Linked DNA regions of Homo sapiens: region 2 is linked to region 1. The links come from fine-mapping of genetic effects on plasma protein levels. Region 1 holds a variant in brackets. A gene starts in the other region. All regions are shown on their reverse strands.

Region 1 (4,397 bases):
CTTGTTTTCCTGTCCCTCCTGCTTTTCCTGGTTGTCAGATGAATGTTCTGGCTTATGCCATCTTCAAAATCTCAATGTTTTTGTCTTTGCAGGGGAATCTGACCTTGGTTCAGCCATCTGATGAACCAAGTTCATCTCTTGCATCTTCTTGGCAGTCTGTCTATAGAGCATCTTCTCAGGTTAGGCAAGGTGGAGCTATGTGATTGAGGGAGGGGCTTTTGACTTGAGTCAAAATTAGGCTGCCTGGGACAATCATGGACCATGCCTGCCATACAAGCTGCATTTTTAATGGTACCCCTTTAAATATTTGTGCTCAGATCTCAATTACCCTTGACAATGTAGAATGCAACATTGGAATGTTTGACAATGCAGGAATGCATGCAAAATATAATTTTAAAAAATATCAGCTGGGCGCAGTGGCGTATGTCTGTAATCCCAGCACTTTGGGAGGCCGAGGCGGGTGGATCACCTGAGGTCAGGAGTTCAAGACCAGCCTGACCAATATGGTGAAACCCCATCTCTACTAAAAATACAAAAAATTAGCCAGGCATGGTGGCAGACACCTGTACTCCCAACTAGTGGGGAGGCTGAGACAGGAGAATTCCTTGAACCCAGGAGGTGGAAGTTGCAGTGAGCTAAGATCACGCCACTGCACTCCAGCCTGGGTGACAGAAGAAGACTCTGTCTCAAAAAAATATATATCATATTTGGCCCAGATCTACGTTTTTTGCCTCCAACAAGTTTTCATGAGGTTAAGTTAAATGTGGGAATTTATTTCAGACAGTCTGCAAAGTGGATAGCTCACTAGAGCAAACATACAATCACCTGCAGGCTGACTGTAGTCAAAATAATCTACTGTCACCCTGAATAGGTTTTCTCACATAACATCTACAAAAACCCAGCATACCATTGTCACACCCACATGGTGCCTTCTGATATGTGACATTAGAAAACCTCAATCTCCTAAAAAAAATCATAAAATAGTTTCAGTATATATGAACTCGGCACACGTTTTTGTTCAGTGAAACTTCTTTCTTTGATGATGCCTGTTCAAATATTTGCAAATATTGAGAAAACGCCCACATAAATCATCCTCTGTTGCTGAGGCCACACAGTCTGCAGAAACCAACAGGTAAGACACAAAATACTGAACGCCACTGGAGGTCACGCAAATTCCAGGAAACCTCAGGCCATCTTAGCCTTCCTCTCCCAACCCCAATCTGTTAGTTTCTAACCGAATGTGCTAGAGAAGCCAGCCAGAGCACCATGAAAGTCAGCAAGAAGGTGAAATGGTGAGAGGAGGAGGGGCCTTTGGTTACATCTCTTTTCACCTCTCACTCTAGATGTGAAGAAACTCAGAGGGGGCTGCGGCATCCCAAGTCGGGGAGGCCATGAGGACCACTAGAAGCAGGCCTGGAGGTGTGGTCTCTGGGGCTGGGCTCTGTCGCTGCCCTCTGTACCCCAAAATGCCTCTGAGATGCCCATGTAACCTCCAGGGGAGCCCAGGAGCTTCACCTCCTGCAAATGGGGAGAGATGGACAGTAGGAGAAGAACAAGAGAGAAGCAAGAAGCAAATGGTAGGAGAAAACACAGGATAGAGGGAAGAAAGACCAAAGGCCGGTGAGCAGAGAAAAGAGGTGAGCATCCAGGGCCCAAGAGCTGCTTCAAGGTCATGGAAAGCCAGCCTGCACCTGGAAGGAAAGGTCCTTGCAGAATAGAACTTAAAGCAGGAAACAGAGAATTAAGCGTGGCAAACAAGAAACGCCCATGTGCCTGAATCTATATCATTCTAAGTCAGTGTATCAGACGCCCAGGACTCTGAAAAATCAGGGTTCCCAGACAAACCCAACACTTGGTATGAGCAGCGCTTCTTTATTATAAAACTAACATCACTGAAAGCTTTTTTTTTTTTAAAGACCAAAAATATCACATCTTAGGCAAATGAGTTGAAAATCCCTCAGAGTGACACCCTATTTTTTTTCCACCCATTTCTAAAGTCAGAGGACACCTGGTAAAGAAGCTGGTTTTTAGATAAAGAAATGCAATTCCTGGTGCACGCGGTTTCCTGGTGGTA[C/T]AGCACTGAAGTGACATCATGGAAATATTTGTACCTCAAGGTCAGTCTGCAAGGTTTCTGTGTGAAAGCATGAGTCTTAGTGGTGGGAAAGTATGTGTGTGCACCTTTGTGATCTGCTGCTGTTTACTGCTCTCTGCTTCAAAGACAAAGTTTTAATTAAATCCAGGTGGGCAGCTTGCCAGGGTTTTCCACACTTTTGGCTCACCTAGGTAGGCAGCCTAAGTGCAGGTTATACCATTTGGAAATGCCTCTGCTCCTGTCACTTGGAAGGAAATAAAACAACTGTTCCTTGGGGCGGGGGGTTGGGGGGAAGAAGCTTGTCTTCCACTCAAGGGCAAGGAATCTATGACATAAGATGCTCATTCTGGTGGTGAATATGAACAGTCTAATTTGTGTAGCATTCCTTAAGGTGCCAAAAGTAGGAAGCAGCAGACTGGGAACGTATGGAATCCTTTGTCTTAATTAAAAATATAGTGGGAGATGTGGAATTTGGCCAAGCCTCATAAATCTGCTAAAAAAGCATCAAGACTCCATCAGATAAGTTTAAATAGAACCAACTGAGCCCTCTGGAGAGTTAAACAGATTCCCCACTCATGTGGACACCCACTCTCCTGTCACTTTCCCGCACTCCGCAGGCAGCAGTGGTGCTCGTTAACCAGCAACCCTCCAATTCGCCTATGACAAGCTTATCCCCCTGGAGCACACGATTCAGACATGATAAATTTACTCCCGCTTGTAAAAATGAAACTCTCCTCAGGGCAATAAAAACGCTCTGAGCCTTTAGGAAATAAGTTCTTTATCTGATAACCTACCTTCATTAACAAAGTCTGGTCCTCTTGGTCAGGACAGCTCTTCACTGCTAGGGAGAACTGCTCTAAGGTAACTGGAAGGGAAGAAATGGAAATTGTGAATGACTTCACTTCCGCCTCAGAGCCCTTCTGATGTGAAGGAGGACACTGTGGTTATAACAGACGTAAACAGCATGCTGTCCGTCCTTCCTTGGTGACATGGCAGAGCTCCCCAACTGTCCCCTGCATGGGTCAGGGGCCCCCGTACAGTGACTTCTCCACCCCATCAGACAGAGTCATTACAGTAGAGTACAAGGCCATTCCCATCAGCAAAGCTCCTCCCTAAACTGCCAGGAGGTCCTGGGTTCAGCTTCCTTTTGGGTCATCTTGTCCCCAGAGATGACACTCTATCTCCATTTCCTGGGACCTTCATTGAGAAGACTCCACCTGCCTTTGTAAATTTGACAGTGCTAATTTAAAAAATCTCAATCTTCCATCATGATTTCCATGGCTTTAACTCTTCTCTTGGTGTATGGCCCCAAGTGTTGACTCAAACCCCACAAACTCCCCCAAATATATAAAGTCGTCTTTCTCCAACCAACCTTCTCAAGGAGAATAGGGAAGAGAAACCCAAGAAGATTTACGAGAAAAAAAAAAAGTTTTAGTAATCCATTGAAATTGGCCATGAAAGCTCTAGGAATATTAATCTAGAAAATTTACAAAATTACATTCCCCTTCTCATATTTATGGCCAGGTTCTCATCAAAGGCTCACTTATGTGGTGACCAATTTTTATTTTGGTGTAAGTCACAGACTGCCCTCCTGTAGGCTGTGTTGACTACATTGTTTCATGCTTGAAAATGCTCCCACAATTCTCTGCCACCCTCAGATTTAAAACCACTTATTTGACACGCATTAAGGCTTTTACTAAGTTAACCCAACTAGTTTAGCCTTTGATTGCTATACTCAAAGCTGCGTTCACTCTTTACCCTCTATGACCTTTCATTGCTCTCTGCTGGGAAGAGTTCTGCCTCTTGTCTTTGAGTAGAGCAAAACTCAGTCCTCCAACTGAACATCCCAAGCCCACCCATCCAGCCAATAAAGACATTGATTGCCCTCTGGTCCCATCCCAACTCCCGCAGATCCCACAAAGGTGGGCAGAGCTAAACTCAGCCTCAAGGCTGAGGGACAGTCTGATTCCAATGATTTGACCTCAAGCATGCCTGGATGTCATGTCTACAAATACAGATATTTTAAAGAGAACTATATCAGCAATGATGAATTTTCATCAAGAAAATATTGTCTGGGTAGGTTGTTTGTAGTTTTCAATGTTACTCTAAAATAGAATTCCTTAGACTGCTTTCATCTCTGACTAAATTACTCCATGCCATCTTGACTGCTATCAGTTGTATCTGGTGCTGATTATTTCTTCCAAGTTTAAATTTTGCTCTATCCAGTCAAGACATACTTGGGATCCATAGAGAGATCAATGTTGCCTTCCACATGCTCTCCAATGCATATACCCACCCAGTCTTC
Region 2 (4,397 bases), not on the chromosome of region 1:
TCCACCCAAATCTCATCTTGAACTGTACTCCCATAACTCCCATGTGTTGTGGGAGGGACCCAGTGAGAAATAATTGAATCCTGGGGACAGTTTTCTCCATACTGTTCTTCTGGTAGTGAGTAAATCTCACGAGATCTGATGGTTTGATAAGGGGAAACCCATTTCGCTTGGCTCTCATTCTCTCTTTGCCTGCTGCCATTCATGTAAGATGTGACTTGCTCCTCCTTGCCTTCTGCCATGATTGTGAGGCCTCCCCAGCCATGTGGAACTGTAAGTCCAATAAACCTCTTTATTTTGTAAATTGCCCAGTCTTGTTACGTCTTTATCAGCAGCATGAAAACGAACTCATACATATCCCAAGTATTGTATGGAACATAATTATAGTAAAAATTATTTGTTTTTTATTTGAAATACAAATTTAAATGAGACCCTTGCATTTTATCTGGCAATCCTCTACTGAGTGTTAGGCACTGTGCTAGGTGCTAGAATAATGTGAATATGACATAGTTCCTGTCTTCAGAGAGAGACGTAGAAAAATGTAACATTTTTGGCTACAGATGAGCAATTAAATTCAAAATACTCTTTTCTGAGCATATCTTTCCAACCACAGGAAACAATACTTCAGAGTCATCAACAACATCGTCACCTTTGAGCATGAAGTATATTTGAGGTTTATTCATATTTTGAATTAGTCTGAAATGACACACTGAATCTCGAAGCTATCCATATCCCACTGAACCTTCCTTTTGTTGATGAGCATGCTGTCCTCAGAGAAATAAAAAATAAGCCCTAACCGCTCCCTTCCCTAAAGATACTTAGATCATTGAGGAATACCATCAAAGGGACAGGATGTTTCAGTTCACTGTGATCGGTTCTGGAGTGAAGGAAATCCAAGTGTTATTGATGCACATGAGAGGAACACCCAGCCCAAATGTGGGAGGTCAGAGAATACCTCTCAGTAGATGTGGCACCATACTCTACAATTACAAGTTTACAAAGACCCTGTAGTGTGGATTAACTGGGTATAGTTTAAATAAATAATTTAATTTAATTTAAATAAATTGATATAACCAATATATCTTCTCCAGAATATTGGAGAAATCTCTAACCAGGAATGACTAAGCACACATTGAAACACATCCAATCCTCTTCTATTGTCATCCTGTTCCTTACTGTTTGTTGGTCGTTCATTTGGCAAGTCCTTATTGACAAATTGGTATGTGACAAGTGCTCTGTTAGGCATTGAAACAAAATGAAGAACAAACCAGGCTTGTTCCCAAACCTTGTAATACTATCTAATGAGAAAAATAGGCATTATACAATCACATAAACATATAGAGAATGATAAAATTTGGTGACTTCCATGGGAGAAAGAACATAATAATATTTGTTAAAAAAGAGGACCCTCTTTCCATTACCTGCCAAGGTTGGGCACCCTGAGGATGGGACATTTGATCTGAGATCATCTCCCATTTCTAATGTAAAGGTATCTGAATGATGACAACTTTATCCTGGTAGGTAGATTCCCAAGAATGGCTTACCTCTAAGTCTAAAACACGCCTTCCTAACAGAAGTTATATCACCTTCAAAGGGGCAAGAATTGACTCTTGGGAAGATGAAAAAAACTAATTTTTTAATGTATCAAACACAGCTATACATGCAGCACATAAACACATACATAGTATATTTGTGGTATTAAATTTTCATGGAAAAAGGGGGTGGCTAAAAACAAAATTGTCTAAAAAAGATCCTTAGGGGAGCAATAACGAAAAAATGGTTGAGAAACACTGGTTCAGAGTTTTTATTCAATAGTCCCTCAAATAATACTTACTAAAGGAATGCTTTCAAGAAAGAACAGTTAGAGGTGCGGGGGATATAAGGGGTAAGAAAAGGGGCCCTTAAATGTTAGTGGGAAAGAAGACACGAAAGCAAACAAGGAAATAGAGAAAATAATTGCAAATTGTTATAAACACTGTGAAAAAAACACAAAGGACCTGAAACAAAATAATGGGGTGGAACCTCTTTGATTGCAAAGCCCTTTCTGAGAAGGGCTTTGGCTTTAAAAACGGTGGTACGCTTGCTGATTTATCTCCTAATTTGCAGATCTGGGTGAGATTACGGGAAGTCCTTGATCTGTACATTTGTATTATTTTCCTGTTCAGAAGCCTCATAACAACTTATGTGAAAGTCAAAAAGGCATATGCTTGACACCTTGACTGTGTGATTCACACCACGCTCATTAAGCTTGCCTACATTAGGAGCTGCATGCAGAACCAAAGGCTGTGTGAAGACAAGGTAGTGAAGGGGTTTCCCATATGAAAAATACAGAAAGAATTATTTGAATACTAGCAAATACACAACTTGATATTTCTAGAGAACCCAGGCACAGTCTTGGAGACATTACTCCTGAGAGACTGCAGCTGATGGAAGATGAGCCCCAACTTCTAAAAATGTATCACTACCGGGATTGAGATACAAACAGCATTTAGGAAGGTAGCCACATTCACATTTTCAGAGCCCAAAGCAAAATATGACACTAAGCTCTTCTTCCCTTTTCTGATTCTTGCAGGTCTCATCTGAGTAGCAGCTTCCTGCCCTCCTTCTTGGAGATAAGTCGGGCTTTTGGTGAGACAGACTTTCCCAACCCTCTGCCCGGCCGGTGCCCATGCTTCTGTGGCTGCTGCTGCTGATCCTGAGTGAGTAGATGGGCTATAATGGGGCCACGGCCTCAGTTCCTAAAGGTGACCAGGGAAAAACTCAAGGAGCTTCTATCTCTGCTTCTACTTGGGGTTCAGAGACAGATAGCAAGGGATGGGAAGTGAGCAGAGCTGGGTTCCCTGGACAACCAAGAGGCTCCAAATGCAACCATCAGAGCAAGCCAGATATCCTGACCTTGGTTTCTCACCCACTGCTTTTCTCACCTCATAGGAAACTTGGATTTTTCCTTCTGCCAAACCACAACTCTATATCCCACCCTCCCTCTTAAGCCTCAGACTAAATAATTTTTCAGATGAGCAGTTACTTCTAAAAACCTAGGCACGTGAAGGAAGGTTTACTGAGAAACATCACTGTTTTCTAGAAGTTTTAAGCCAAAATTTAATCAGAGATTGAAAAAGTGAGGGGAACAATAGGAGCCCAAGGAACGAAAGGAGGATAAACCATTTCTGTAAGTCCTTGTCTGCCTCTGCACTCAGAGAAGAGAAGGAGAGAATAAAGTGTGCCGTGGCCAAGTAAATAATAGCAGAGATGAGGTCAGGCCTTGGACATAAGCCATCACGTTTGTAAAATACATTATATGACATTTTCTTTGTTGTTTAGGGGCTCTGGATGATATAAAAAGGGAGCAAAGAAATGATAAGGAAAAACAAAAGAAGTGGTTGTGGTTAGGTTGTTAGAAAATGTTTCGGAGAGTGTCTGATTGTCATTTTCTGCTCCCTCACAGCTCCTGGAAGAGAACAATCAGGTAAGTTTCTCCTTCTCTCTGCCCCTCTGGTCTCTGGATATTGGTCCCCTCAGCCCACACAGCCTGCCCTAACCCTTGCAGGCACGCATCCCATCAGCAATGCTAATGCTCTGGGGTCACATCTGCTACTATATTGGGTGAACAGAGCCTCCTCCGACTTTTTCAGTCTCTAGGTTTTTTTTTTTTTTTCTCCCTACATTACCGGTATTCCTCAGACTACAGGAAGGAAACACTTGCAGAGCAAAGGACAGAGGCAAGAGGCTGATGATGAAGGAATCTCATATGTGATCTCCATATTCTCTAGTACATCTCCCTCTGAATGTCCAAGCTAGTGCTGCTATCAAAGGACATAGAAATAGATCCCATCCACGGAGGAAGATGCTACAGCAGAATCCTTATAAATCTCCAAAAAGAGCTCATGCCACTGCCACACCTCACTTCCATGCCTGTCAGTCAGTTGCAATTCCATACACAAGTCTGACTTCTCAGGCAACCCATCCTCCTCCATTTAAATTCTTTATATCCCTCCATTGTTTACTGTGTCCAACTTAAATGGAGAGTAAAGTTGCCTTCCCCATAGACTTTCAAAGCTAAGAGAGATATAAAAGTAATACAAGTGAGAAAATCTTATTCATTTTAAGTGTTAACAAGTAGGAAGTAATTTTCTGGAGTCTAGAAACTACTTCTGAGGTATATACATCCCAGGTTCACCTTTATCTGGACAGAAATGTATAGGACAAGAGAATTTCAGGATCAGCCACATTCTGAGGCCTTCGCAGTTTTTGCCCAATGGCAAATCACATCTCCTGAGCTTTTCTGAGGCTATGCCAGGAAACTGAGACCTCTCCCCTATAATACCCTTCTGCCCACCTCCAGGAAATGGATGAGGAAGAACAGATTCTTTCCCAGGCATTTCCCTAGGTTATTTCTGCTC

Direction of the effects. Positions count from the first base shown, and alleles are read on the strand shown. Strength reflects both the effect of a copy and how common the allele is.
For the plasma level of the protein whose gene starts at base 2,386 in region 2, allele T in region 1 goes with a lower level than allele C (weak association).

Evidence for each region. A credible set is the group of variants that fine-mapping cannot tell apart. PIP is the chance, under the fine-mapping model, that this variant and not a neighbour inherited with it causes the effect. Protein levels are from antibody-based Olink assays in UK Biobank. Linkage for the fine-mapping came from a reference panel and not from the study's own genotypes, which makes the PIPs less certain.
Region 2: it holds the start of FCRL3, and the variant in region 1 is the best candidate, but not a certain one, in a credible set for the plasma level of the FCRL3 protein (UK Biobank, PIP 0.72).

The regions. Positions count from the first base shown.
Region 1 is chr2:111,047,778-111,052,174 of GRCh38, reverse strand. It overlaps ACOXL (acyl-CoA oxidase like), which reads right to left. Exons shown (of 18, transcript NM_001142807.4): 16 at 2,887-2,957. It overlaps LOC124907866 (a long non-coding RNA gene), which reads left to right and starts at 1,998. Exons shown (of 2, transcript XR_007087182.1): 1 at 1,998-2,114. RefSeq lists a silencer at 2,029-2,323 and an enhancer at 2,029-2,323. The variant C/T (reference allele first, on the strand shown) is at 2,075.
Region 2 is chr1:157,698,758-157,703,154 of GRCh38, reverse strand. It overlaps FCRL3 (Fc receptor like 3), which reads left to right and starts at 2,386. Exons shown (of 15, transcript NM_052939.4): 1 at 2,386-2,493; 2 at 2,570-2,696; 3 at 3,443-3,463. The coding sequence starts at 2,666.